4 linked regions of the Homo sapiens genome follow. The protein of the gene in region 2 purifies or fractionates together with the protein of the main gene of each other region. This does not show direct contact. Each region holds a gene or a part of one and is shown on either strand. Other genes may lie near its edges. The genes, in order: HNRNPR, HNRNPC, ZC3H18 and SRPK1.

Region 1 (7,023 bases), on a different chromosome or scaffold from region 2:
CTACCACCCGCTATATTGTGTTGTCAAGTATTGTGTTGTCAACTGCTGGCACAGTTCTTTGACCTCATCACTTTATTATCTATAGCTCCTTCTGGCTTCATGATCATTTATTCATTCTTTCAGCAGGTGTTTATTAAAGTTCCTGTTAAGTGCTGGCATTGTGCTATGTGCCTGGGATACACTGATGGCTAAGAGACATATTCTCTGCTTTCATAGATCCTATATCCTGAGAAAGGAGATAAGACCAAGAATATAAAAAATAAAAATTAAAGGAATATTTAGACATTGTGATAAGACACTGAAGCAGGAAATACAGGATATTTAGCTAGAGAATAGCTACTATCCCTGTTTCCATGGTTTTGGAAGACTTTTCTGATAAGATGACATGTCAACCAGCACCTGAAGGATGAAGAGGTTGTAGCATACAAAGAGCAAAAGGAAGTGCATTCCAAGACAGCAACACGTGCCAAGGTTCCAAGGCAAGAAAGAAGTCAGTATATTACAGTAACTGAGGAGGCCAGTATTATTAAAAGGTAGAATTAGGAGTAGAGTTGTATGAAATGAAGTAGGCAGGGCTTCTGTAGGCCATGTAAGGAGTTGGGTTTTTATTGTATATATAATGAGAAGGTATTTAAAGGTTTTAAGCAGGAAATAACACCTATTTCTTGTTTATGGGATATTATTCCTAGCGCTCTGTGGATAGGGGCTTGGAGAGAAGGGGTGTGAGTGGAAGCTGATAAATTAGTTGAAGCTGTCATACTAGTACAGATACAGGATTAGACTAGGGTAATAGCAGTGGAGATAGAAAGAAGTAAATGAGTTTGGAATTGGATAGGAGAGATGAAGGAAGAAATCAAGAATGGCTAACCAATTTCTGGCTTCAGAACCAGGTGGATGGCACTGTTTATTAGATAGGAAGTCTAGGGAAGGCAGATTTTGGCCATGGTGGTTCAGTTTTGGAAAAGTTAAATTTGCAATGTCTAAGACATCAAAGAGGATACATCGGGTAAGAACGTAGGCACATCTAGAGCTTAGAGAAGTCTGGGGTAGGAAAAAAATCTAAGTATTTATAAGGGTATAGGTAACATTTAAAAGTAGGGCTAGCTGACATTATTTAGAAAGAACACATACGGAGAGATAAGGGCAAAGGACTAAGACCAGAGGAACACTAATATTTAGTGATCACTTCCATTCTTGGTAAAAATAGTAACTTTTAAGTTAGCTTCAAGGAAGATTTTTGGCCATGATTAGTTGTCAAAAGTTAGTTCTCTTGGGTTTATATTACTAATTTTGTTTTTAAGATCCTTGTTAGTGCTTTAATAAAGTCATGTTATATCAAACGCTCTAAAACATTGTAGCATGTTAAATGTCAGAATATAGTAGATTTGTTGTATATGGCTGTACCTTCAGAACCCCTAAAATTAAAAAGGAACATCAAATACTGTCCCAAACCCCATATCTAATTATGTTGATCTAATTGTCTACAAAATTAGTGACTCATGTTGAGGCTGCTTCACTTATATTTTGCTCATCGTCAAGTGGATTTAGGTCTGCCTAATCGCTAGATGTGTGGTGGATGCTTTTGGCTTATATATCTGGCTGTTGGTTTAACAGAGGGTTTGGTGGACGTTATTCTCTATCATCAACCCGATGACAAAAAGAAGAATCGGGGGTTCTGCTTCCTTGAATATGAGGATCACAAGTCAGCAGCACAAGCCAGACGCCGGCTGATGAGTGGAAAAGTAAAAGTGTGGGGAAATGTAGTTACAGTTGAATGGGCTGACCCTGTGGAAGAACCAGATCCAGAAGTCATGGCTAAGGTAAATACAGTTGCTTGGAATGGGCATAGGGTCATCATTTAAATTTTGTACTCAGAATAAAGCTCAAATATTTTGAGTTTTATGATAAATAGAAATTGTAGCTTTAGACTTCAACTGTTTGGCAAGGAGCGGCTTTAACACTAAAGTTAACAGCCTGTCTTGGTATCCAGGAATTTCCATTAACAATCCCTTTTCCTGCAGATTAAATGTGCAAAAGGAACTGAAATGAAATTCCTTCAATTAAGTAGTCCCATACACACTGGGTGTTTGTTTAGTGCTAGGCACTGTGAGGGATAGAGGTTTTTTTTTTTTTTAAAAGTCCTGAGTAAAGAGAGAAGTAATGTTTTGGAGATTATAAGTTATAATCTTCATTGACTATATTATGACTTTATTACTTGGCCATGAATTATGTTTTATTTAGATTTATAGCTAATTTTTCTTTTTTTAAGCTTTTTTTGTAGTTTTTATTTTTAAAAATATTTTATTTATTATTATTATTTTTTGAGACAGAGTCTTGCTGTGTTGCCCAGGCTGGAGTGCAGTGGTACGATCTCGGCTCACTGCAACCTCCACCTCCCAGGTTCAAGCGATTCTCCTTCCTCAGCCTCCCAAGTAGCTGGGACTACAGGCGCCTGCCACCATGCCCGGCTAAATTTTGTATTTTTAGTAGAGACAGCATTTCACCATATTGCAGGCTGGTCTCGAACTCCTAAGCTCATGATCTACCCGCCTTGGCCTCCCAAAGTGCTGGGATTAAGGCATGAGCCACCGTGCCCCGCCTCTTGTTTTTAAATGATCAGATTCCCTTAGTGTATTGTCCCCATGAAGAAAGGCAAAAGATTGTCATGTTTGCTCTTATTTGTTAGTGGCAAAATATGCATGGCAAGTCCTGTAAAGGGCCCTCAATTCCCTCCTGATTCCTGTACTTGCGTTGCCAGGATCTTAATAGTGGTGCCTTGAGTACTGGTTCTTAAGTTTTCCTTTGGGCGACTCCTGGGACACATCAGAGTTGCATTTCTTTTTTTTTGAGATGGAGTCTTGCTTTGTCCCAGGCTGGAGTGCAGTGGCGCGATCTCCACTCACGGCAAGCTCTGCCTCCTGGGTTCACGCCATTCTCCTGCCTCAGCCTCCCAAGTAGCTGGGACTACAGGTGCCCGCCACCACAGCTGGCTAATTTTTTGTATTTTTAGTAGAGACGGGGTTTCACCATGTTAGCCAGGGTGGTGTCCATCTCCTGACCCTGTGAACCGCCCGCCTCGGCCTCCCAAAGTGCTGGGGTTACAGGTGTGAGCCACTGCGCCCGGCCTCAGAGTTGCATTTCTGCTGCTTGCAATGAGCTCTTGAGCATTTTAGTTGTCTCTTCCCTTCACAGGGAGGCAGCAACTCTGAATGGCCATGAGTTAATGGTTGGATTCTTCTTGATAAGTCAGAAGTCAAGGTTTTTATTCCAGAATTTGAGGAGGCAAACCCTCGTTCTAAGTAGTTTGGAGGAGAACTCTGGTTTATACTTGTATAAAGTCTGGGTTGGCAGTGACATCTTTGGGTTAATCAGATAAGTTCTATTCAGAATGAACCAGAGAGGCTCTCAGAAGTGCTACTCAGTATCTTTTATCTCATATTCCTTGAGTAGATGGGTGTCTAGGAAAGGGATAGAGAATTTAAATAGCTCTGAGTTTTTATTTTGATTTTTTACTAGCTTGATTTTAATTCCTATTGTTTCTTCTCCTAATACAACTATGACTTTGGGTAAACTACTGAACATGAATGTCATCTATTTTATTGAGCCTGGATCAATCTCTAAGATCCACCACAACTTTGAATCTACCTGTAGTAACTAAGTATAGCCTGTATTACTTTTTCTGTAAAAATATTTTAAAATAGTATTATAGATGTATTATAATAGAGGAATAAAATATTATAAAAGAGGAATAAAATCCCATGAAAACCAAAAGTATAGCTTGTAATTTGCTTACCAGCCACTTCTCACATAACCTTTAGTAACTGCTCAGATGGAAGTTCATCCTAATCTTTTTTTAGGGTTAGAAAACTTCAAGATTTCATTCTGGTAACTCCTTTTTCCTAGATCTAAAACAGGTTTCAGAATGAAAAGGAGGTCTCTATAAACTTAGGATTAAATATTATGGAGCCCTTTATTGTTTCTTTTTTTTAAAAGATGGGGTCTCATGTTGCCCAGGCTGGAGTGCAGTAGCTGCCCACATGTGCAGTCATAGCACACTGCAGCCTTGAACTCCTGGGCTTAAGCGTCCCTCCTGCTTCAGCCTCCCGGGTGCTTGCAACCCCATCCAGCTCCTTTATTGTTTCCTAATTGAAAAGAAAAGTTTATCCATTTGAGTAAAGCTTCTGTTATTCACACTATCAATTTACAATTCACTGAAGATTTTTTTTGCCAAGTTGGGTCAGTTTTACAATGTACCATAACCTAAAAGCCTAAATATATGTCTCTTAAAGGGACCCTTTTTCCTGTTGAACATTTTAAACACAATTTCAGTAAGTAATTTTCACATAGTATGTTATCGTTTCATCATAGAAAAGTCCATGTTGAATTTTTTTTAAAAAGCAACTAAACCAGTGGGAGTCTGTGTAACATAGAGGCTGGACCTTAGTATGACAAATTGAGAATAATAAAGGGGATGGAGCGTTTGTGGAAAATGTTAGTTTTTTTCCTCCTTAAATTAGTATCTTCTTATTAGATAGCCCTTTATCTGAAGCAACAATTTGTTCAATATGTTAGTTTTTTATTTGGATAGGTACTATGTTTTCTTAGTTCAAAAGTTATATAGAAAAGTATAGACAAAGAAATTTCCTTTCTACCCCTATCCCTGTGTCTACCAAATCCCCTTTGTCTCCTATAAGGCATCCAGTTTTAATAGTTGCTGGTTTCCTTTTAGTATTTCCTTCGGCAAATATGGATATACTTCCTTAATTCTTAGATGAGTGGTAGTAATGTTGGTAGCCTACCATATCCACTGATCTACCTTTTGTTTATTCACCATCCTGTTTCATCAGCTCTGAGGAAATACATCATTACTATATGTACTACTAAATAGTTAAAAAACACTGCCAACTAAACTATGGCACAGTACTTGCTTATCACATTGACTGTAAGTTGTCCTATCCTACAACTCATAGAGCTCCTCTTCATTTTTTGGGTTTTTGTTTTTTTTTTTTTTTTTTTTTTTTTTGAGACGGAGCCTTGCTCTGTCACCCAGGCTGGAGTGCAGTGGTGTAATCTTGGCTCACTGCAGCCTCTGCCTCCCGGGTTCAAGTGATTCTCCTGCCTCAGCTTCCCGAGTAGCTGGGGTTATAGGTGCCTCCTACCACGCCCGGCTAATTTTTGTATTTTTAGTAGAGACAGGGTTTCACCATGCTGGCCAGGCTGGTCTTGAACTCCCAACCTCAGGTGATCTGCCCACCTCGGCCTCCCAAAGTGCTGGGATTACAGGCGTGAGCCACCGCGCCCAGCCCTCTTCTTCATTTTTTATGACTACATAGTAGTCTATTCTGTGGAGGTACTATAGTGTATTTAACCAGCTGGATATTGTTTCTAATCTTTTGCTCTTACAGTGCTGGAAGGAATAAGCTTATGTTAGTTGATACAAGTGGAGATATATCTGTAGGATAGATTCTTAGGGGTAGAATTGTGGGCCAAAGGGTAGATATATCTGTAATTGTTAAGATACTGCCATATTCCTTTCTGTAGGAGATACACTATTTTACATTCCTACCAGCAAAATACAAGAGAATTATTTTCCTCATTCTTGACAAAATAGTGTATAATCAAACTTTTGAATTTTGCCAGCCTGATAACAAATGTCTCAGTGCCATTAATGATTAATGATTTGCTTCTCTTACTATGAATGGTTTGAACTTTAAATATATTTTAAGAGCCATATGTGTTTCTGTGTATGAACCATGTATTCAGGAATTTTGCCTATTTTTCTATTCAGTTGTTGAGCTTTTTGTTATTTTCTGGTGCTCTGATATAAAAGAGAGATTAGCTGTTTGTGATACATGTTGCAAATTTTTCATCCATATTTATTGTCTTTGCTTATAGTATTTTTTTGCCATATAGAAGTCATTTATTTTTAGTAGTTGAGTATAACATTCTTATGGCTCCTAGATTTTAAGTCATAAGGTCATCCCCACTCCAGTGTTATATAAAGGAATCATTCTTGTTCTAAAATTTCACAGTCCTCCCTCCACCCTTTTATTATTTAAATTTTCAATCTATTTGGAGTTTATCCTTGTGTATAGTGTAAGGCATGGACCAGCTTTTCTCCTTTTTTTCTAATTTAACACTACCTGATTTAATGATTTAAGCATTATAGTTTGTTTATATTTGGTAGGGCCAGCCTCTAAATTTCACTCTTTTTTTTCCTGGTTATTCTTGCTTATTTATTTTTTCATATGAACTTTTGAAAGTTACTCAGTTTTAGAGGAAAGAAACAGAAAAACTTGTTTTGAAAGGGACTTTTTGTTGATTAACTTGGTAATAATAATTATGTGTTGGTTCCTTGAAGGTTCTACTCAGTGTTAGGTGCTTTAATGACAACATAGGAGAAGGCAGGAACCAATAATTTTTGTAAATTGGTGACTGATATCAGTGTCATTTTCCTAGCAATTTCTCTTACTACCTGTAACAACACTTTTAGCACTTAATGTTTTAGAGGAGAAAAGCTATGCTATGAAGACAGGAAGAAACACTTTTCAGGTAAAATTAAGTAGCCAATGACGGTTTTGTTTATTTGTTGCTTACTAGGTAAAAGTTTTGTTTGTGAGAAACTTGGCTACTACGGTGACAGAAGAAATATTGGAAAAGTCATTTTCTGAATTTGGAAAACTCGAAAGAGTAAAGAAGTTGAAAGATTATGCATTTGTTCATTTTGAAGACAGAGGAGCAGCTGTTAAGGTAGGAATTTTGAAATTTTGGTTCTTGATATTTGAATTTTGTTTTTGAAACTTGCCAAACACAAAGTAACTTTAAAAACTGAAACAATATTGGTTGTCAGCTTTTGCTGAACTCTTTCTATTTAATCTCTGTAAAGTGGTAATAGTATGTAACAGATAAGACTCCATATTTCAAAGCCAGGTTATTACTGAGTTTGTGATCTTAGGCAAGTTATTTTTAATCTCTGTATTGTTTTGTAAGATTCGATAGCATGATGCCTTGGAAGTATTACAA
Region 2 (7,023 bases):
GGTGAATACCTTGTATAGCTCCAGTGGTGAGCAAATGAGCATACTGGTTTACCATTTAGTCGTTTTATATTTTAAATGAGTGGTGCTTGCAGTTGATAGTATCCGGGTAAACTGATGCTAGACTAAGACAGCATGTTTGTGGTGAAGTACTTGCAAATAACATTAGAAATCATTGATTTCAGTTTAGAAATAAAACACAAGCTACAAAAATTTTGCTGGTTGATTTATTTTTAAGCACAAAATCAAGAATTCCAACTATGTTACGAACATTTTGAGGCAAGGACTACTTCCTCAGATGTGAATGAGAGTCCATTTCTGCCTGAGCAGCATTCTTTGTAACTAAAAGCCCCACCGGCTGAAATATTTTGAAATATTTTTCTTCAGAAAAGTAGAGAATTTGACTCCTAATTGTGTTCATGGGACTGTTAACATAGATTCAAAACAGAACTATTACTTGCTTCATTTTGGCTATGGTCAGATGAAATAGTAGGTTTTAAAAGGAAATTCCAGTGATAGTACGGAACTAGCTAGCTAGCTAGTTTAACGGATTTATTGTTTTCGGTCACAATTTGACATATTGTTATTTAAATTTTAATGTAAACCTGTGTTAAACTTTTTTATATCAGTTTTTTTATCTACATAGTTAAGTTTGAGGCAGATGTCTGTCATCAGTTGGTAGTTCATTTAACTAGTATTTACTGGAGATAGAATGGAAAAAACTGCTCCTTTGGTTCTCTTAATTTTTGTTTTGTGACGGAGTCTTACTCTGTGATCCATGCCGGAGTGCAGTGGTGGGATCTTGACTCATTATGAACTCCGCCTGTTAGGTTCAAGCGATTGTTGTCCCTCAGCCCCCGGAGTACCTGAGATTATAGGAATGTGCCACCACACCTGGATAATTTTTTCTATTTTTAGTAGACACTGGGTTTCACCATGTTGGTCAGGCCCGTCTCCATGTCCTGGCCTCAAATGAGCCGCTCGCCTTAGCCTCCCAAAGTGCTGGGATTACAGGTGTGAGCCACCCTGTCCGGCAAAACAGATTATTTCAATCTGTTCACATTTTTAAGATGAGAATCAGCTGTGGTCCATTAAATGGTCCATGTACCAAATGATAGCTTTATTATTAATAGATTAACGTCTACTCTGGTGTAGTGTTGACATGTATTACTAGGTTTTTTGAGACCCAGGAAATGTCACTGTTTGCAGCTAATGTCTTATGGTCAGAATTTCCATTTAAGAAGCTTCCCTTTGAAAACCTCTTCTTAGTACATGTCTTGTAATGCTTTTACTTTGGAATTGGGGTAGACATTCTTTGTCTTTTTTTTTTTTTTTTTTTTTGGTGGTGGAGGAGACAAAAGTTTTTACTCTGTCGCCCAGGCTGGAGTGCAATGGCTGTCTGCAACCCCCACTTCCTTCCTGGGTTCAAGCAACTCTCGTGCCTCAGCCTCCTGCGTAGCTGGGATTACAGGTGTGCCACTGCATCCAGCTGGTGTGTTTTGTTGTTTTTTTTTTCTTTTTCTTTTCCTTTTCTTTCTTTCTTCCTTTCTTTTTTTTTTTTTTAAGACGGAGTCTTGCTCTGTCACTGAGGCTGGAGTACAGTGGAATGATCTCAGCTCACTGCAACCTCTGCCTTCCAGATTCAAGCAATTCTTCTGCCTCAGCCCTCCTGAGTAGCTGGAATTACAGGCGTGTGCCACCATGCCCGGCTAATTTTTGTATTTTTAGTATACACGGGGTTTCCCCATGTTGGTCAGGCTGGTCTCAACTCGTAACCTCATGATCCACCTGCCTCCGCCTCCCAAAATGTTGGGATTACAGGCATGAGCCTCCACACCTGGCTGGTGTATTTTGTCTTAATCTGTTCAGGTGATTAATGTCTCTAGAGTGTTTTAATTTCTTAATCTGACTAGATTTTATACCAACACCATCAAGTTTGATTATGGGTGCAGTTACAATTCTCCTAGGGTTTAGTCCTTGTTCCCCTGGTAAAAGATTTTAAACAGCCTAGCCTTAATCAGTAAGTAATCAGCTATTGTTGCCTCATCTATTGTATAGCTTTCTCATAGTGAGAATTTCCGCTTAATTTTTAGCTGGTGCTTGAAGTAGTCATACTGAGCTTCTTAATATATATCCCTTTTAACTTAAAGGTTGTCACACTATGTATGTTTTTTTTCTATTTTCACACTTACCGTCCTCAACATTTTTCGAGGCAAGGACTACTTCCTCAGATGTGAATGAGAGTCCATTTCTGCCTGAGCAGCATTCTGTGTAACTAAAAGCCTTAACTGGCTGAAATATTTTGAAATATTTTTCTTCAGAAAAGTAGAGAATTTGACTCCTAATTGTGTTCATGAGACTGTTACATAGATTCAAAACAAAACTGTATTACTTGCTTTATTTTGGCTGTGGTCAGACGAAATAGTAGGTTTTAAAAAGAAATTCCAGTGATAGTACAGAACTAGCTAGCTAGCTCATTGGTTTAGATACGGGTGCCGGTGAAGGTTTGTGGCTTAGGAGGTAGATTAGATATTTATTTCCATTGGACTGAGGCTTAAGCTCAGTTTAATGCTCATGGATATGGATAACTTATTTTGATTCACCTCCAGAAATTGTCGTTAAGCAATTTGTGTTTGTGCAAGTGTTACCATCTCTCACAAAGGATATGAGTTTCTGAACACTGATATTTTATAGTTTCTGTATCATTATACTTTGCAAGATTTTGGTCAAAAAGACCAAAAGCTTTATGTCAAAATGGGAAAGTAGTGATAATAAAAAGTTACTCAGTATCTTTTTCTTTGCATTAATTCCCATGAATGGATTAAACTAAGAGATTAACCATACTTAGGGGAAATGCAAACTTTTTTCTGTTTTCTTTTTTTTTGAGACAGTGTTGCTCTGTTCCGCATGAGTGCAGTGGTGCAGTCATGGTTCTCTCACCTCCTGGGCTCAACCTGTCTTTCCATCTCAGCTTTCCTTGCTCTTTTAATTTAGGAAAATGTTCCTGTCCATAGCCACTCCTGGGACAAGATTAAACATTGCTTTGTTGAAATAGTGTGGAAACACTTTTAAGTTAACAGAGGAGAGAATTAGCAATGAGATCTTGTAAATGTTTTCACTACAGGAAGATTGGAGATATTACAACTCAGAATAACTTGCCACTATTGTATATATATAAGAGGGAGAATCATGACAAAGGTGATTAATAATATTTTTAAAGTTCTTGACTATCACATTTGTTTTTTAAGAAATATTTGGAGTTAGAACAGTTGGTAGGTGTATTTTTATAGAGTACCTGGGCCTTTGCATTAAGTTAGTTGCATTTTTAAAAAGCTTGCAGAATTGAAGACCTTTTCATACGTTGCCATAGGTTCTTATATGGAAATGACAATGTGGAATGTAGAAAGTTTAGAACTGATGTCCATGTAAGAAGTATTTTGTTCTGTTTTGAATTTTCTCTTTACAAATGTAAGTGTACCAAGCCACTGCTTTGGTGTATCTTTATCAATCACTGGGATACTAAGTTTAAGACATTTGAAATTAAGATTTCTAATAGAAACAGCAATTAGTTGAGCAACCAGTGTTTATTGAGTGCTAAGTGTGTACTGGCCAGTGAATTTAGACATAGGTGAGTAGTGAACAAGATAGACAGTGGTCTCTGCCCTGTTGGAATTAAGCGTAAATTTAGTTAGAAATGATACTACCTGTTTTTATATGAGGTATTTTTTATCAGTAGTATTTATACCCAGCCAACACATTTTGCTATGATTCCCTCAGTTACATGAAATTGCCCTGATTTTATAGATCTGAAATTTTATATGGTTCAACCTTATATCACTAGTTGTAATAATTCGTGTGCTTCTGTGGGTGAAAAGAATCAGAGATTTCGCTAATGCCATATACCACTGTTTATATACCCTTTTAATTGGAACATTTTAAAGAGTATTTGACCGTATGTGAATTGTTTATTGTAATGTATATTTGAAAATAATAAGATCCAAAGGCTATTCATTATAATAAATGCCCTGTTAATACTGACACTAGTACAGAGGAATCATTTATATCCAGTGCCAAAGGCCAGCCAACCATATAATTTGATATATGTTTTATTTTCCTGAGGAAAAGTTGCTACAGTATTACAACTATTTTATGTGCCTAGGTAAAGAAATAATGGGATAAGATTTCTAAACCCCACTGTGGAGGTTTTTGCTGGCCTTCTTAATGAAATTTAATAAAAGGAAACGACTAGAGACAATATTCACTTACTATTTATCATAAGGTCTGTTGAATTGTGCTGAGTTAATGTTAGGTTTGAATGAATTCCATTTTCCTCTTATCCAATAGGATGTACAGTTACCCAGCACGTGTACCTCCTCCTCCTCCTATTGCTCGGGCTGTAGTGCCCTCGAAACGTCAGCGTGTATCAGGAAACACTTCACGAAGGGGCAAAAGTGGCTTCAATTCTAAGAGTGGACAGCGGGGATCTTCCAAGTCTGGAAAGTGTATGTATTATTTCATTTTGTGATTTTGGTATCTCTTGTGTTTTGAGATAGGGAAGCTAATGCAGTTACAATATTTTTGTGCCACATGACTTTGTGTATTCAAAATAATGGAAGAGGCTGGGTGTGTGGTGGCTCATGCCTGTAATCCCAGCACTTTGGGAGGCCCAGCGGGTGGATCAGCTGAGGTCAGGAGTTCAAGACCAGCCTGTCCAACATGGAGGAACCCCATCTCTACCGAAAATACAAAAAATTTGCCGGGGATGGTGGTGCGTGCATGTAATCCCAGCTAATTGGGAGGCTGAGGCAGGAGAATCGCTTTTACCCAGGAGGCGGAGGTTGCAGTGAGCCGAGATCATGCCATTGCACTCCAGCCTGGGTGACGAGCAAAACTCCATCTCAAGAAAAAAAAAAAAATCCAAAATAACAGAGGAGACAAGATTGTGATTGAGTGGCCAATTCTAGACTGCAACAGCTAGGTAATTTAAAAAATGTCATTTGACTTTATGTAGTTGAGGTGTGCGTTAAGTTCCTGAGATTTTTTTGTGTTATTTAAAAACTAAAATTCAGACAGTGTTCAGTATGTTGATTTTTTTTAACTTTTCTATATTGAACTCCTCCTGTAACTGGAAATATGGAAGGCAGTAAAACATTACAGAAGGTCTGATGCAGTGGTGCGTGCCTGTAGCCCCAGATGCTTAGGGGGAGGCTAAGACCCTGGGGATCTAGGCTGTAGTGGGAGGATTTCATGAGGCCAGGAGTTTAAGTTCACTGTGATCATACGTGTGAATAGTCACTGTCCTCAGGCCTGGTCAACATAGCGACAGCCCTGATCTAAAAGACATTAAAAACAATAAAAACCATTACAGAACGTGCTTTATAATAGAACCAAGGGCCTTTATTACCGAGAAATCTGTACTGGCTCTGTTTCTCCCTGGGTATCTCCTGTGAGCTCCTGATGTAGTCTGGTGGCAGTGTATTTGCTAACTCATATCTTCGGTACATTTGATTTTAATCTAGTATTTTGTTTATATTAAAGTGAAAGGAGATGACCTTCAGGCCATTAAGAAGGAGCTGACCCAGATAAAACAAAAAGTGGATTCTCTCCTGGAAAACCTGGAAAAAATTGAAAAGGAACAGAGCAAACAAGCAGGTAAATGGGTTTTCTGCTTGCCCTTGGTATACAGTTGGGTTAGTTACATAAGGCACTTGAAAGTACATGTTGGAATAGTGGAATATAAAGCAATGTAATATGAAACTTGGGGAGTGTGAATTGGGAAGGGTATTTGTGTGGGAGGATTTAGATTTGTGCTGCAGTTCTGTGATCCTTAGTGGGGATTGTCTACGTCCTGTGGACATTACTGCCCCTAGACAGACTTGTCCTTCTCATCCGCAGTAGAGATGAAGAATGATAAGTCAGAAGAGGAGCAGAGCAGCAGCTCCGTGAAGAAAGATGAGACTAATGTGAAGATGGAGTCTGAGGGGGGTGCAGATGACTCTGCTGAGGAGGGGGACCTACTGGATGATGATGATAATGAAGATCGGGGGGATGACCAGGTGAAAACCACGGGAAAGGAAAGAAAAAGGTGGTGGAGGGGGGCTCAGGGACACATGGAGTGCCTCTAACTCCATCCTGTTTGTGTCTGTTTCTCACAGCTGGAGTTGATCAAGGATGATGAAAAAGAGGCTGAGGAAGGAGAGGATGACAGAGACAGCGCCAATGGCGAGGATGACTCTTAAGCACATAGTGGGGTTTAGAAATCTTATCCCATTATTTCTTTACCTAGGCGCTTGTCTAAGATCAAATTTTTCACCAGATCCTCTCCCCTAGTATCTTCAGCACATGCTCACTGTTCTCCCCATCCTTGTCCTTCCCATGTTCATTAATTCATATTGCCCCGCGCCTAGTCCCATTTTCACTTCCTTTGACGCTCCTAGTAGTTTTGTTAAGTCTTACCCTGTAATTTTTGCTTTTAATTTTGATACCTCTTTATGACTTAACAATAAAAAGGATGTATGGTTTTTATCAACTGTCTCCAAAATAATCTCTTGTTATGCAGGGAGTACAGTTCTTTTCATTCATACATAAGTTCAGTAGTTGCTTCCCTAACTGCAAAGGCAATCTCATTTAGTTGAGTAGCTCTTGAAAGCAGCTTTGAGTTAGAAGTATGTGTGTTACACCCTCACATTAGTGTGCTGTGTGGGGCAGTTCAACACAAATGTAACAATGTATTTTTGTGAATGAGAGTTGGCATGTCAAATGCATCCTCTAGAAAAATAATTAGTGTTATAGTCTTAAGATTTGTTTTCTAAAGTTGATACTGTGGGTTATTTTTGTGAACAGCCTGATGTTTGGGACCTTTTTTCCTCAAAATAAACAAGTCCTTATTAAACCAGGAATTTGGAGAAAAAAAAAACCCTGGTTTTTTATTTTTGTATTTTATTATTGTTTACTTCAAACTTTGTTTTACAGCGTCCTCCACAAAACCTCTAGAATGCACTAGATATATTTTTCTTGGAGTCATAA
Region 3 (7,023 bases), on a different chromosome or scaffold from region 2:
CTTACTGCCACAACCCCACGCAGACTCCCAGTCTTGAACAGTCAGTGCGTAGAGGCCTTAGCAGCCTTGGTGCTTTTCATCCTTGCTTTTGTTGCCTTGGGCTGCAGAAATGCTCTGTGCATCAAGCGCCCCTGTGATACTGTTTGGGGATCAGCTCCTTGACTTTCCCATTTTCAGCAGTGTATACCAGTTTAGGACTACCTTTAATAAAAAGACGAGGGTCTTACCATGTTATCTAGGCTGGACTCGAACTCTTGGGCTCGAGTGATTCTCCCACCTCAACCACACAAGTAGCCGGGATTCCAGGTACATGCCACCACTCCTGGCTTAGGACTGACTTTTTAATAATTCCTCCCAGTAGTCCTGTCTCTGGATAGTAACCGAATAGTGTACTTAGAAAACCAAAAAGTGAATCATTTTCAGAACTGTCTGCTTTTAAGTGACTTGGAATGGATTGGTTGGTTTGTAAATCTATGTTATTGCTAACCATTTAGGTTTTTTTTTTTGAGACGGAGTTTTGCTCTTTTTGCCCATGCTGGAGAGCAATGACACAATCTTGGCTCACTGCAACCTCCGCCCCCCCGAGTTCAAGCAATTCTCCTGCCTCAGCCTCCCGAGCAGCTGGGATTACAGATGCCCACCACCATGCCCAGCTAATGTTTTGTATATTTAGTAGAGACAAGGTTTCACCATTTTGACCGGGCTTGTCCTGAACTCCTGACCTCAGGTGATCCACCCGCGTCAGTCTTCCAAAGTGCTGGGATTACAGGCGTGAGCCACCACCCTTGGCCCATTTAGTTTTTATAAAGTGATGAATTTTAAATGATTTGAATTTTCTTTTGAGACGGAGTCTCGCTTAGCCACCACCTAGGCTGGAGTGCAGTGGTGTGATCTCGGCTCACTGCAACCACTGTCTCCCAGGTTCAAGCGATTCTCTCGTCTCAGCCTCCCAAGTAGCTTGGATAACAGGCACCTGCTATCATGCCCAGCTAATTTTTGTATTTTAGTAGAGACCGGGTTTCACCATGTTGGCCAGGCTGGTCTTGAACTCCTGACTTCGGATGATCCACCTGCCTTGGCCTCCCAAAGTGCTAGGATTACAGACGCGAGCCACCACGCCTGGCCAGATTTGGGTTTTTTTGGCTTTTTTGTTTTTTGTTTGAGTCAGGGTCTCACTCTGTCACCCAGGCTGAACTGCAGCCTCAACCTCCTAGGATCAGGTGATCCTCCTATCTCAGCCTCCCAAGTAGCTGGGACGACAGGTGCCCTACCACACCCAGCTAATTTTTTTTTTTTTTTTTTTTTTTTTTGGTAGAGATGGGGTTTTGCTATGTTGCCCAAGCTGGTCTAGAACTCCTGGACTCAAGTGATCCGCCCACCTCAGCCTCCCAAAGTGCTGGGATTACAGGCATGAACCACCGCACCTGACCAATTTGTTCTAATGTATCTTTTTTTTTTTTTTTTGAGACGGAGTCTCGCTCTGTCGCCCAGGCTGGAGTGCAATGGCGCGATCTCGGCTCACTCCAAGCCCCGCCCCCTGGGTTCACGCCATTCTCCTGCCTCAGCCTCCCGAGTAGCTGGGAACACAGGCACCCGCCACCACACCCGACTAATTTTTTGTATATTTAGTAGAGACGGGGTTTCACCGTGTTAGCCAGGATGGTCTCGATCTCCTGACCTCGTGATCCACCCGCCTCGGCCTCCCAAAGTGCTGGGATTACAGGCGTGAGCCACCGTGCCCGGCCTCTAATGTGTACTTAATCTTAATGATTTCCATTAACAGCAAAAAAAAAAAATGTTTAACTGTAGGTTGATACCAATTCTTGATACTGTGCATCTTTAAACAGGTTGTATTAAAAGTATAAATTTAAAAGATGAATATTTTTATCTTTAGTGTGTATGGTTATTTGAGATACAAGACATATAAATGTGTATGTGTATGACTTGCTGCGTCCGTAGTTATCTTGAGATGAATAATCTGTTTCCAGACCTTGCCGAGATGCCGAGCAGTGTGACCGTGACATACGTTATTTTAACAGCCTCACAGACTGAACAGTCAAGTGACCGCTGACCTGGCACTGTCCCTGCTGCTCCACACTCACTTGGTGGTGACTAGCTGCCCTGGTAGTGGTGGTGTGGCAAGTGTTTGCCAGGCAGGTGTTGCCGTTCTACACCTTCCTACCCGTCTTAACACCGTCCACTTTTAAAGCATGGGTAGCAGTGTACTTTCTATGAGTTTTTGAGGAGGGAAACTCGAAAATATTAACTTTATAATTTAATCTGGATTAGTAAAAATAGGAATGAAGTCTGAAGTGACCCCGTCTTTTTTTGTTTTTTGAGTTTTTTTTGGAGATTGGTCTCACTCTGTTGCCCAGGCTGAAGCACATTGATGCAGTCTTGGCTTACTGCAGCCTCCACCTCCTGGGCTTAAGCGATCCTCCTGCGTCAGACTCCCAAGTAGCTGGGAATATAGGCACGCACCACCACACTCTGTGACTTAGTTTTTGTTTGTTTGTTTGTTTTTGTTTTTGTTTTGAGACGGAGTCTCACTCTGTCGCCCAGGCTGGAGTGCGGTGGCGCGATCTCAGCTCACTGCAAGCTCTACCTCCTGGGTTCACGCCTTTCTCCTGCCTCAGCCTCCTGAATAGCTGGGACTACAGGCGCCTGCCACCACGTGCAGCTAAGTTTTTGTATTTTTCATAGAGACGGGGTTTCACCGTGTTAGCCAGGATGGTCTCGATCTCCTGACCTCATGATCCACCTGCCTCGGGCCTCCCAAAGTGCTGGGATTACAGGTGTGAGCCACCGCGCCTGGCCTGAATTTTAGTATTTTTTTTTTACAGAGACAGGGTCTCACCATGTTGCCCAGGCTGGTCTCGAACTGCTGGGCTCAAATGATCCTCCCGTTGCAACCTCCCAAAGTGCTGAGATTGTAGATGCGAGCCACCGTACCTGGCCAGCCTCGTCTTTTACATACGCGCGGTACTTAAGTGTGTCAAGTTTCCTGCCAGAGTTCTTTTCGACAGCAGCTACCTGTATGGGAAGAGGGGTTCTCAACTTAGGAGTGTGAGTTGCTGAGCGGGTGAACACAGCCCTCTCGACACCTGCTGGAGGGGCCAGTGAACACGCAGGCAGGGCTCTGAGCCTGCATTGCTAAAGGGCAGCCAAGGGATTCTCGGAGGCCCTCAGAGGCTGGCCTTCGAGAAGTGTGTTCAGTAACAGAAAAGGCTCCAGACTTGGACACTGCCGAAGGCTGGCCCAGGTTCCTGCTTCAGGATGACTCCAGAAAAATGGTGAGATCTGGGCCTGCAGTTTTGCTTCCTCGTTCCATGATACAGTTTATCTTTAATTTCAAAAGTAAATACTCCTCTAAGAATTCACACAGCTGTCCTTTGCGATCCGTATCGTTACTCACTTTCTGTTAACTCGTGTGGGCTGCCCTTGAGCGGGGAAGGGCTAGGCCAGGCTGCGTCTCCTTCTGCCACATCTCATTTTGCCAGATTGCCAAAAACGGGAGGCACTTAACACCCAGCTTAGCTGAGCAGTCTAGCCTTGTGGAGTGGAGTTATGGCCTGTCTTTCTCTGCAGAGTGGAGTGTGGGATTTGGGGCAGGGCCGTGTGGGACCAAGCAGGATGGAAGTCCTGCTGCTTCAGGCCAGGAAAGTAGGGACAAGGTTTGTTTTCCATTTTGCTAAAGGCTGTCAATCTGTATTCTCTCTTTTGCAGAACCGTGGGTACCGATGGATGTGGCCGAGAGCCCTGAACGGGATCCTCACTCTCCAGAGGATGAAGAGCAGCCACAGGGACTCTCGGACGATGACATTCTGAGGGACAGCGGGTCCGATCAGGATTTGGACGGGGCGGGGGTGAGGGCTTCTGATCTGGAGGATGAGGAAAGTGCAGCCAGGGGGCCGAGCCAGGAGGAGGAAGATAATCACTCCGACGAGGAGGACCGGGCAAGTGAGCCTAAATCCCAAGACCAGGACTCAGAGGTGAATGAGCTGAGCCGGGGCCCGACCAGCTCCCCCTGCGAGGAGGAGGGGGACGAAGGGGAGGAAGACCGGACAAGCGACCTTAGGGATGAGGCCTCCTCAGTCACCAGGGAGCTGGATGAGCATGAGCTAGACTACGATGAGGAGGTTCCTGAGGAGCCAGCTCCCGCCGTCCAGGAGGACGAGGCTGAGAAAGCGGGGGCTGAGGATGATGAGGAGAAAGGCGAAGGCACTCCCAGGGAGGAGGGGAAGGCTGGTGTTCAGAGTGTGGGAGAAAAGGAATCCCTGGAGGCTGCCAAGGAGAAAAAGAAAGAGGACGATGATGGAGAAATCGATGATGGGGAAATAGACGTGAGTATGATGGAGCAGAGCGTCGCGGGGCATCCTGCCCAGCAGCCTGACATAGACTGGTGCTGGAAAGGAGGGACTCTGTGTGGGACTGACTTAGTGATTTGTTACTAGGGATGGTGCAGGAGAATGAGAGGCTTGTTTTGGGTTCAGTCCCATAGTGATTGGAGAGAAAGAGCCAGAAATCGAGAATGAGCAGAGGCAGCTCCAGAAGCTGCCAGCAGGGTTTCCGTGGCCCTCGGCCGGCCAGCTGGTGGGATTGTTTGGGTTGTAGTGAAAGGTCCAGCGCCCAGTGTTTTTAGGTTCTAGGAATGAAGGGTTAATGTCTGTCCTTGTCTTTGCCGTCTTCAAGTGATACTCAAGTTAACACTCAACCAGAAACCACGTGGGTTTCCACTCTTGTCAGGTTTTTGGACTGAAAAGAATGAGGAAATTTTCCATCTGGTTTTGGATGTTTTAGGCATTTTTATGCTGGTCCTAGAGCCTGACCTCTGGAGAGGGCACCAGCTGGGCCAGGCCTCTTTGGACATATCCCTGAAAAGACTGTGGTGGGCACCTCAACTTCTGACAAAGCCAGCACACTTTTTTGTACATTAAATTAATGTGGCCTTCAGGTTGAGGGGAAGGTAGTACTATCTATGATCCTAGGTATGGGTAGGTGGGGTTTTCTTAGCAGTTGATGCCGTTGGAAAAACTATGAGTGTTTCGGGAGAAACACCCCAAAGTCCTCCTGAGTGATACTTGCCGGAGCTATTGAACTCAAAGGAGGTGAGCAAGGGACAGAGCAGTTGAACTGAACTGGGTTTTTGTTGTTTTTTTTTTGAAAGATCCTGGGGAAGGGGATTGTGCTTATGGGGAGTCATTGCGGTGAAGAGTGTCTGCCGAGAGTATCTCTCTGATGTCATGCTCTGGGTTGAGGCAGGTAAAGGCTGCCAGTTAGATGTGTAACCGCCGGTTTGCCTTGAATGCCATGCTCCTTTTTTTTGAGAGAGAGAGTCTACCCTGTAACCCAGGCTGGAGTGCAGTGGCGCCATCTCAGCTCACTACAGCCTCTACCCCCAGGTTCAGGCAATTATCCTGCCTCAGCCTCCTGAGTAGCTGGGATTACAGGCGCCCGCCACCACTGGCTAATTTTTGTATTTTTCGTAGAGATGAGGTGTCGCCCTGTTGGCCAGGCTTGTTTCAAACTCCTGACCTCAGGTGATCCGGCCGTCTCAGCCTCCCACAGTGCTGGGATCACAGGCGTGAGGCACCACGCCCGGCGGGTGCCATGCTTCTCCAGTAGCATGCTGGCGTGCGTGCTCTCAATGCACGTTTGGATATGACTTTCCGGCCATCGCTGCTCTCTGTGGCACTGCTCAGTAATTTATAGGGTTTGAAGTATTGCTCATGTGACTTTACGGGACGTGTGTGCACCTGCAAGCTGAGAATTTTAGATGTTTCATCTTTCCGCAGCGAAGTGTAGGAAGTGGTCTCCTCAGCTAGTGCTTTTTGCAAGAGGAGACCTACCCCAGGGCTGGCAGAGGGAAAGGAGAGACGGTGAGATTCAGGTTCATCAGCTGGGGGAGCTGGTTGGGTTGAGGATGCCCATGAGACTGAGTTTTTGTGTCCTGGGGGTAACAGCCCTGTCTGCACCACCACTGGGAGTGCAGCAGGTCCTGCACCCAGGGCTCTGGCGTGCTCTAGTTCCTCTTAAGAGGACTGGCTGCAGACCCTCAAGTCTTGGGGGAGATTCATCAGACGGATCAAGGGTCCCCATAGTGGTCCTGAAAGGCCATGTCTGTGGAGCATACTGTGAGTTCTCAGTGCCGCACCATGGGCGCGGGCGGTGCGGTAGATGGGTCCAGCTGCTCTGGAGAATGGCCCTGGCTGCCAAGGGCCTGGACATGCTGGTTTCCCCTAGACACAGCACATGGAAGAAAAACCCCATTTGCCATTTTTGCCTACCTAGACCTTGCCTGCCCTGCCTGGCACCGTCTTGTGAGGGGACCCACAGTTGAAAACGGAGTGCTGCTGTGGAAACCCCAGCACAGCTCCCTTGGCAAACGGGGAGGCAGGTTTCTTCCACCGCACAGACTGCCTCCAGCGCCCCACATCCCCCATAGGTCTGTGCTCCTGGACACCAGCACAGGTGGACCTTGCTGTGCCACATGCTGAGTGTGACTGGGCAGGGCGGAGCAGAGCCCGCTCCTGCTGTGGGGGCAGCAGGCCTTTAACCAAGGTGGGCAGTGCTGTGAATGGTGGGTTCAGCCTCTACAAGAGCACATTTGACTTCAGGCCCCTGGGTTGCTTGCCCCAGGAGCCCCCGTGGTCTCCTCTTGTTCCCACGCCCAGCAGCGTTTCAGGCTCCTCCATCCTTTATGTGTCAACCTCAGCATTTGCGTAGGCTGTTTCTCTGTTGCCTCTGCCTCTCTGTCGTGACACAGGTTCATCTGTGTGTGTGTGTGTGTGTGTGTGTGTGTGTGTGTGTGTGTGTGTGTGTGTGTATATGTATATGTCTCTGCCTGCTGCTTCCCCTATTCCCAAGAACATGTTTCCTAAGACTGGGGGCTACCTGGCTGGTTCCCCTATCTCCCTGGGGCCTGGCACATAGTGGGCAGCCAGTCAGTAGAGGAATCCTACTTGCCCGGGGCACATTGAAGGTGAGAACCTTTGTAATGTGAAGTGGCAGTGAGTGGAAGGT
Region 4 (7,971 bases), on a different chromosome or scaffold from region 2:
CCTGGGAGGCTGGCATGTATGGACTGCATCACCCAGGCTTCCTTGCCATTTAACTTCCAGCTGGGTTTTGTCAATGGTGAGGCACTCGTTTGAGAAGATGTGGGTCTTTATTTCCCTGCCCTCTCCCTGCAGGGCTCATTAAAGGGCACAGCTGCTGCCAGGCGGGCCTCTCTTACTACAGCTCTGTTATGGGTTGAATTTTGCCCCCCACCCAACAAAAGATATGTTGGAGTCCTAATCTCCAGTACCTCAGAATGTGTCCTTACTTGGAAACAGGGTCTTTCCAGAGGTAATCAAATTAAAATGAGGTTTTTAGGATGAAGCCCAATGCAGTATGACTGGTGTCCGTATAAAAAGGGGAAATCCCAACACAATGAGAGACAGATGCACAGGGAAGAGCATGTGGCGAGGGAGATGATGGTTACCCAGAAGGCAAGGAGAAGGGCCTGAAACACATTCTCTCTCACAGACCTCAGAAGGAACCAACCCTGCCAATACCTTGATTTCAGACTTCTAAGCCTGTGAGACAAGAATTTTCTATTGTTTAAGCTACCCAGTTTGTGGTACTTTGTTATGGCAGCCCCTGGAAAACTTTTTTTTTTTTTTTTTTGAGACAGAGTTTTGTTTTTGTTGCCCAGGCTGGAGTGCAGTGGCGCAATCTCGGCTTACTGCAACCTCTGCCTCCCAGGTTCAAGCGATTCTCCTGCCTCAGTCTCCCAAGTAGCTGGGATTACAAGCGCCCGCCACCATGCCCAGCTAATTTTTTTTTTTTTTTTTTTGTATTTTTAGTAGAGACGGGGTTTCATCATGTTGAACAGGCTGGTCTTGAACTCCTGACCTCAGGTGATCCACCCGTCTTGGCCTCCCAAAGTGCTGGGATTACAGGCGTGAGCCACCGCGTCCGGCCCCTGGCAAATTGTTAATAATAAACCTCTCCCTGGGTTCTGATAACACCTCCATCCTCTTCTCCCTTCAGGCCTAGAGATGGTAAAAACTCCAGCTGTTGCTAGTCCCTGGATGTCTAACTATCCCTTGTTTGTTTTCCTTAACACCTTTATTCCTTCATTAAATTCTCTTCAATTAGCCTTTAAATGTGCCATGTGTTTCCTGATACCCAGGCCTATAATATGTAGATTTTCCCAATATAATTCACAAAACCATGTATCCAAAAGGTAAGAGAAAGTTTTTTTGGGGTTTTCCAATTATGCAGACAGCTATTGGAAATCTTAACTCATTCAAAATAAATCATCTCATGTATTTTCACTTTCTCCTGTTGTCCATTTCATCTCGCAAGACGTAGGGGAGGCCATAAAGGGATGTGTTGCTTTGGATTTAAGTCAGATCAAAACTTTAGACAAAGCATAATAATTTGTGATAATCAAGGCAGACAATGTTGGGTATGAAGAAACGTGTGAACTCAACTTTAGACGTTCAGATTTCTAAAATGTCAAAGAAGTATTAGAGAAGATTCCAGGGAGTCTTAATAAGTAAGTTAGCTCAAAAGGGATAGGATCTTTTCAGAAATTAAATTCTGAGACTACCATGAGCAGCCAAAAATATGATGGGTTATGGTTTCCGAATACCTCTACTTTTAAAGGGACTTGCAGGAAAAAAATAGCTGATGGAGAAGGGGTATGCATGTAAGAATGAATAGCTACCACTTTTTTTGTGTCTTTCTTTTTTCCTTTTTGTGCAGAAAAGGGTCTTGCTGTATTGCCCAGGCAGGTCTCTAACTCTTAGGCTCAAGGTATCCTCCTGCCTCTGCCTCCCTAAGTGTTGGGATTACAGGCATGAGCCACTGTGCTTGGCCTACACTTTTTTTTTTTTTTTTTGCTAACACTTTTAAGAATAGTTTCTGGGGAGCCTAAGGGGGGCAGATTGTTTGAGCCCAGGAGTTCCAAACCAGCCTGGGCAATGTGGCAAAACCCCATCTCTATAAAAAACACAAAAATCAAGTGGATATGGTGGCATGTGCCTGTAGTAGTTCCAGCTACTGGGGAGGCTGAGGTGAAAAAATTGCTTGAGCCCGGGTTGCAGTGAGGAAAGATTTCGCCACTGCGCTCCTGCCTGGGTGACAGAGTGAGACCCTGTCAAAGAAAAAAAAAAATTCTGGAAAGTTAAAAGTCCAGAATAGGCCAAGCTCTGCAAACTTGGGAGAAGAAACTATTTTTAAAGTTACATTTCAAGCAAAATGCACAAAAAGGGGATGGTTGTAGAATAGGGGAAATGAACAAACGTGCTTACATGAACAGTTATAGAGGTCTTAGAAAAAGTGGAGAGCCAAAGCATGATGGAGGAATAGAGAAAAACAGATGGAAAAAAAAGAGAAATGGTCAATTCTGGGAACTCAGTCCAGTGAACTTCACATTGACTCTGGAAAAATTCTGAAAACGAGTTATTAAACAGATGGTTAGTAAGCTCTTAGAGAAGCAATAGCCTACTCAGAGTCAGGATAGGTACGACTGTATCATGCCAAGCTGAACATATTTCCTTTTTGATGGGTCTGCAATAACCAATTCAGATTTAATACAGCTCTAATATTGTCCCTCTCAGTGTTTTCTCTCTCTTTCATCCTGACATTTCTCATAAACTGCAGATCATTTATTCTTTTTTTTTTCTTTTGAGACGGAGTTTTGCTCTTGTTGCCCAGGCTGGAGTGCAGTGGTGCAATCTCGGCTCACTGCAACCTCCGCCTCCCGGGTTCAAGCGATTCTCCTGCCTCAGCCTCCCAAGTAGCTGGGATTACAGGCATGTGCCACCATGCCCGGCTACTTTTGTATTTTTAGTAGAGATGAGGTTTCACCATGTTGGCCAGGATGGTCTCGATCTCTTAACCTTGTGATCTGCCCGCCTCGGCCTCCCAAAGTGCTGGGATTACAGGCATAAGCCACTGTGCCTGGCCCATTTATTCTTTTATTAGACAAATATATGAGCACCTACTAAGTGCCTAACACTGTGTAGGCACTGAGTTTACATCAAGGAAAACCTAAGCAGGGTCTCTACACTCAAACAGTTTACTTTGGGGTGGGCAGTACTTTCCCAATTCTGGGATTTTTCCTAGCTATCAGCTCTCTCCCTGTCTTTTCTAAACCACACGCGGTTATCCTGAACTCACACAACCCTCAGAGTCTAGGGCTTCCCTGTCTGTCCTAACCTTCCTTTTGTTTTCAACTTTACAGCAGGGAATAGACTGGGCTGCATCCTTCCTTGGCCAACAGGTACTGTCTTCTTTTGCAATATACTCAGACATGCTATCATTCAGGTTCCATGCAACATATATCAATTATCTAAATTTCAAATTTGGCTAACCTGCCTTTCCAGCCTCACCTTCCATTTCATCCCTTCAGTTGTTACCAGCCCCAATCCTAGCCCCCACCTACAGGTGTCCACGTCTGTGCCTTTTTGCTCAATGTATTTTCTCATTCAGGAATGCCTGACATCTCCTTCTCCACCTATAGAAATCTTACATATTTCCTAATACCCAGCTCAAAAACTGCCTTCTCTGGATGGGCTTAATTACTTACTTTGCTCAATAAGTTCTGCCAAAGCCCCCATGCTTGACTTGTGCTGTACTATTGCCCTCTCATCTTCCCTTCTCAATTACTTGTTCAGAGCAAAGGTCTTCAGAGCTTCCACTCTGTCCAGCTGCGGTACTTTACAACATGGGTTGGTAAACTAAGATCTGAAATAAGAATAACCGTTGAAACGGTTGAAAAAAGATCAAAAGGGCCTGGCTCAGTGGCTCACACCTGTAATTCCAGCACCTTGGGAGGCTGAGGTGGGAGGATCACTTGAGCCCTGGATGTCCAGGCTGCAGTGAGCCGAGATCATGCCACTGTACTCCGGCCTAGGCAGCAGAGCAAGACTGCTCTCTCTGTCTTTCTTTAACCCTCACCTTCCCTTCAAAACCTAACAAAGACCATGTTTAAATCAATAGAAGAACATTTTATGACGTGAAAATTATATGAAATTCAAATTTCAGTGTCCATACATAAATCTTTATAGGAACACAGCCCATATTTTCTATGACTGCTTTTGAGCTCCAATGGCAGAGTTGAGTAGCTGAGAAAGAGATCTTATGGTCCACAAAGCCTAAATATTTACTGTACGGCCCAAAGAAAAACTTTGCTGAGCCTGCTATACAATAAGGGCTTCATGATTAAATAACTGGGTCGTACACCAAGATTCTGAACATATAGGCAGGCCCTCTTAAGTTTAGTGTCTTTGTGTAATGGAAGTAATAACTATTTTGCCTTTAAGTTGCCATAAACATCAAATGAGATAATGCACTTAGAAAATAAAAACAAAAAAAACTTATAAACAAGACAGCTTTATCATGTATTGAAGGTGGTAGAATAAGAAAACATTAAACGTTTTTATTCTCATTTCCCCTTCTTTCCTTTACAGCTTTCACTTAAACTTGAAATTTCAAGAGAAAATTCACTTTTGAAGTTTTTACTTTTCAAGTGATAATAGGGTCACAGGTTCTTTCCTTCCAGTCTTTTTGTGTTGCTCCCACTCCCTTTTCTTTCTCACATGTAATTTTTTTCCATTTTCTTTAAATAGTATCTCAACTGGGCTCACAATAGCTCAGGGAAGGAGAAACTGGGACATGCCTGATTAATCCATTTTACAGGCCAGGAAACTGAGGCAGATCCCAGTTGCCTCCGAAGCTCTGACTCAGCAGCATGCAGAGAGCCCTGCCGCTCTCTGCGCCTTTTCTAAACAAATAGAACAAAACTAACCTTGCCAGGTTTCCAAGCTTGGATCTCTAACACTCCTTCAACGTTCACCCCGGCGTTCCTCCCCGCTGCGCCCCCTCCCTCTCCTTGCCGCCCCCTCCTCGGGAGCAGGTGGTAGGCTCCGCGCCCAACGCGCAAGCGCGCGGCATCGTGGGGCGGGGGTGGGGCGGGACTGAGGGCGGAGTGTGAGCGGGCTCGGTTTTGGGCCGCGGCGGGAGCGGGAGTCGCCGCCACTCGAGTGCGCAGGCGCCTGGCGATTACCGGTCTCACCATGGAGCGGAAAGGTGAGCGGTGGAGCGGCCTCCGCCACGAGGGGCAATGGTCGCCGGGGCGAGGCCCGGGTCAGCGCCGGGAGCTTCGCTTAACTGCCGCGGTTCGGTTCCCGGACGTGCGGCGCCCCTCCACTGAGGTGGCGCCGCCCCACACCCCCTGCCTCTGGGCTGCGGGTCCGCGCCCCTCAGTCCGGGCGTCCTCTGGCGCCGGCCGTAGCCGCCCCTTGTTCCCCGCCAGGCCGGCTCGCGCCTTGGGGCCACTCCAGGGCCCGGCCCTTGGCGGGCGACGCAGACCCCCACCCGCCCGCCCCCTGACCCGGCCTGAGACCCCTCCGGCGCATCCCGCCCGGGCGCTGCTCTGCGCCCCGTGGGCCGCCAGCCCCACGGCCGGCCGCCTCGCCGGAGCCCGCAGCCGCCCCCGAGGCAGGCCCCGCAGCCGGGCCTGGCGCCCCTGCTGGGTCTCCACCCTCACCTTGGTCGCCTCCTTTCCTCCACATTCGCCCTTCATCCATCCCTCTCTCCTGCAGTGCTTGCGCTCCAGGCCCGAAAGAAAAGGACCAAGGCCAAGAAGGACAAAGCCCAAAGGAAGTGAGTCTTGTACCCCAACATCCCATTCTTTGGATTTTCCTCCGGCACCTTCTCTGCTCTGGTTTCACGTCTTGAACGTGCACCGGGTTTGGGCACCCTGTGGCTGCAGCCACATGGCCTCGGGGCAGCTCGGAGGGTCGCTCTCCAGCAACCATGTGGAAGAGAGCTGCTGTTGCTCAACGCCAGGCCTGGGTCTTAGCAGCCCCGGGCCTGCTGGAAAGGGCTGTCGGAGGAGGACCAGAGCCCGCCCGGTACCTTTCCTCCCCAACTCCACAGAGGAGGCACAAACTCCCCTAGCTTGGACCTCCCCACCGGAGCTGGTAGATCATTATCGGTCTGTTTCTGAACTCTGGTCTCTCTTACCTGCTCCCCAACGTCTTAACTTGCCTCCGACGTCTTCACGGTAGGCCTTAAGGAAATTCTTGAATGAATTTTTCCGTGTTTACTTTGGGTTCTACCAACCACACACTCCCTTTCATAGAGGAGGGCATGGGGCTTTTCCCTGGGTTAGTCAACTTCCTGAGCCTGTAAGGCGTATCGGCTTTTTTGCAGTGTGCCGGCAGACCGCTGTGTATACAGTCGGTGTCTGTTAACTGCTTCTCTTCTGTCTAAACCTCAACCAGATGCAGATAATCTTCCGGAGTGGACATCACAATAGTAACGGGAGAGTTCTTTAACAAACATTGATGATTCTGGTTTGGCGTATTAAGCGCCACATGTCCAGTTTTATCAGTAGGATGCATAACAGTAGTTTAGTGCTATCGTGGCAAGTTCAAAAGTTGGTCACAGCCTAGTAGAAACTCAGGTAGCAGGCTTAGCAGCAAGTGAGGCTAAGCCTTAAGAACTTTCATCATGTACTAACGTTTAATTGCAAAGGATCTTGGAAATCAGCTCTTACACACTTTGTATTCAGAGAGAGCTTGTATGCCTAGTTATTAATACATCTTAATTTTAGATGTATTATCTTTATAGTTTTACATTTATTTGATGTTTTGTGGCATCGTATGCGGTCTAATTCCCTCTGAGCTGATACAACACATTTCAAAGGCCTTCCTAGGTCACCCCACTGAATGACAATACCAGATTAGGGGGGTGTAGGGGTGTGTGTTGTTTTTGGAGGCTACCTACTGTTTGGGGAGAGCACATAATGACTTCTCTCTTTCAATAGAACTAAAGTGGTAGGTGACCTCACCTCTTGCTCCATTTTCTCTTCTGTCTTATGAAATGTATTTTGTAAGTGCTTGGTGACGAAGTCTTGTAAATGAGAGTTTGTGTGTGTCTGTTTACCTTTGGATTATCCATATATGGGATTATTCAAAACCAGTTTTTAATCCTAGATCGTTTAATAGAAACAGCAAGGTGCTAACTTGGTTCTAGTGTGCAGTAGGACTTGAAATGTTACTTTTCTGTGCCTAGTTTAGTTATTCTTTGTGGAATTGATGAGAATGTGTTAAAACGTTCTTTTCTATTGATACAAGGAAGTTGCAGTTTTTATTATATTACTCTGTATTTTTTAGAAATCCTGGTCTCTCAGACTATTTGTCCAGATCTCTCTTACCACTTAGAAATTAATTTGAGATTAGCCCAAATCAAGCTGTAATTTGAGGGGTAAATGTATATAGATGATATACTTTAAGCACCAGAAATCTGTTACTTTCGATTATCTATTTAGACCATATGCTTTATTTCTAAAGTCAGATGTGTATCTGTTACCCCATTCACTACTATGGATAACTTAGAGTTATTTGTGTTAATTGTTTGCAAGTATGGATTATAGATAATCTAGCAGTCATTTTACTGAATATTTCATCTTGAACAACTTTGAATCCTGAAAATATGCGTGAATGAACTGCCCCCATTTCCTTGTAACTTCAGAGGTGTTTTATTTTTGGATTTGTTTCCAATTAATAAGTTTTTTTTGTTTGTTTGTTTTTGAATTTACCTACCTTTTTTTTCTTTTTCTTTTTGAGGCAAAAAGAAAGCCTGTTGCCCAGGCTGCAGTGCAATGGTGCGATCTCGGCTCACTGCAACCTCCACCTACCAGATTCAAGCAATTCTCTTGCCTCAGCCCCCCAAGTAGCTGGGACTACAGGCGTGTGCCACTACGCCTGGTTAATTTTTGTATTTTTTGTAGAGAGAGAGTTTCGCCATGTTGCCCAGGCTGGTCTCGAACTCCTGAGCTCAGGTAATCCGCCTGCCTCAGCCTCCCAAAGTGCTGGGATTACAGGCATGAGCCACTGCACCTTGCTCTTTTTCTTTCTTCCTTTTTGTCTTTCTTTCTGTCTTTCTTTTCTTTTGTTTGTATCCCAGCCTCCTTTTAAGTAGCTGAAATGTCTAATTAAGTTGGTTAGAGTACTGTGTTAGAAGTT

Evidence for each region.
Region 1: the proteins of HNRNPC (region 2) and HNRNPR purify together in Homo sapiens (affinity purification with mass spectrometry; 3 studies listed by BioGRID and IntAct, with this or other methods). This does not show direct contact.
Region 3: the proteins of HNRNPC (region 2) and ZC3H18 purify together in Homo sapiens (affinity purification with mass spectrometry; 2 studies listed by BioGRID and IntAct, with this or other methods). This does not show direct contact.
Region 4: the proteins of HNRNPC (region 2) and SRPK1 fractionate together in Homo sapiens (co-fractionation; 3 studies listed by BioGRID and IntAct, with this or other methods). This does not show direct contact.

The regions. Positions count from the first base shown.
Region 1 is NC_000001.11:23,313,280-23,320,302, reverse strand, and holds part of HNRNPR (heterogeneous nuclear ribonucleoprotein R), read left to right. Parts: intron 1-1,605; coding exon of another isoform or gene 1,606-1,614; coding exon 1,615-1,820; intron 1,821-6,600; coding exon 6,601-6,750; intron 6,751-7,023. UniProt on the Homo sapiens protein: Component of ribonucleosomes, which are complexes of at least 20 other different heterogeneous nuclear ribonucleoproteins (hnRNP). hnRNP play an important role in processing of precursor mRNA in the nucleus.
Region 2 is NC_000014.9:21,210,436-21,217,458, reverse strand, and holds part of HNRNPC (heterogeneous nuclear ribonucleoproteins C1/C2), read left to right. Parts: intron 1-4,341; coding exon 4,342-4,499; intron 4,500-5,535; coding exon 5,536-5,649; intron 5,650-5,892; coding exon 5,893-6,053; intron 6,054-6,152; coding exon 6,153-6,236; 3' UTR 6,237-7,023. UniProt on the Homo sapiens protein: Binds pre-mRNA and nucleates the assembly of 40S hnRNP particles. Interacts with poly-U tracts in the 3'-UTR or 5'-UTR of mRNA and modulates the stability and the level of translation of bound mRNA molecules. Single HNRNPC tetramers bind 230-240 nucleotides.
Region 3 is NC_000016.10:88,573,384-88,580,406, forward strand, and holds part of ZC3H18 (zinc finger CCCH domain-containing protein 18), read left to right. Parts: intron 1-3,726; 5' UTR 3,727-3,740; coding exon 3,741-4,343; intron 4,344-7,023.
Region 4 is NC_000006.12:35,918,099-35,926,069, reverse strand, and holds the start of SRPK1 (SRSF protein kinase 1), read left to right. Parts: upstream 1-4,971; 5' UTR 4,972-5,013; coding exon 5,014-5,026; intron 5,027-5,541; coding exon 5,542-5,602; intron 5,603-7,971. UniProt on the Homo sapiens protein: Serine/arginine-rich protein-specific kinase which specifically phosphorylates its substrates at serine residues located in regions rich in arginine/serine dipeptides, known as RS domains and is involved in the phosphorylation of SR splicing factors and the regulation of splicing.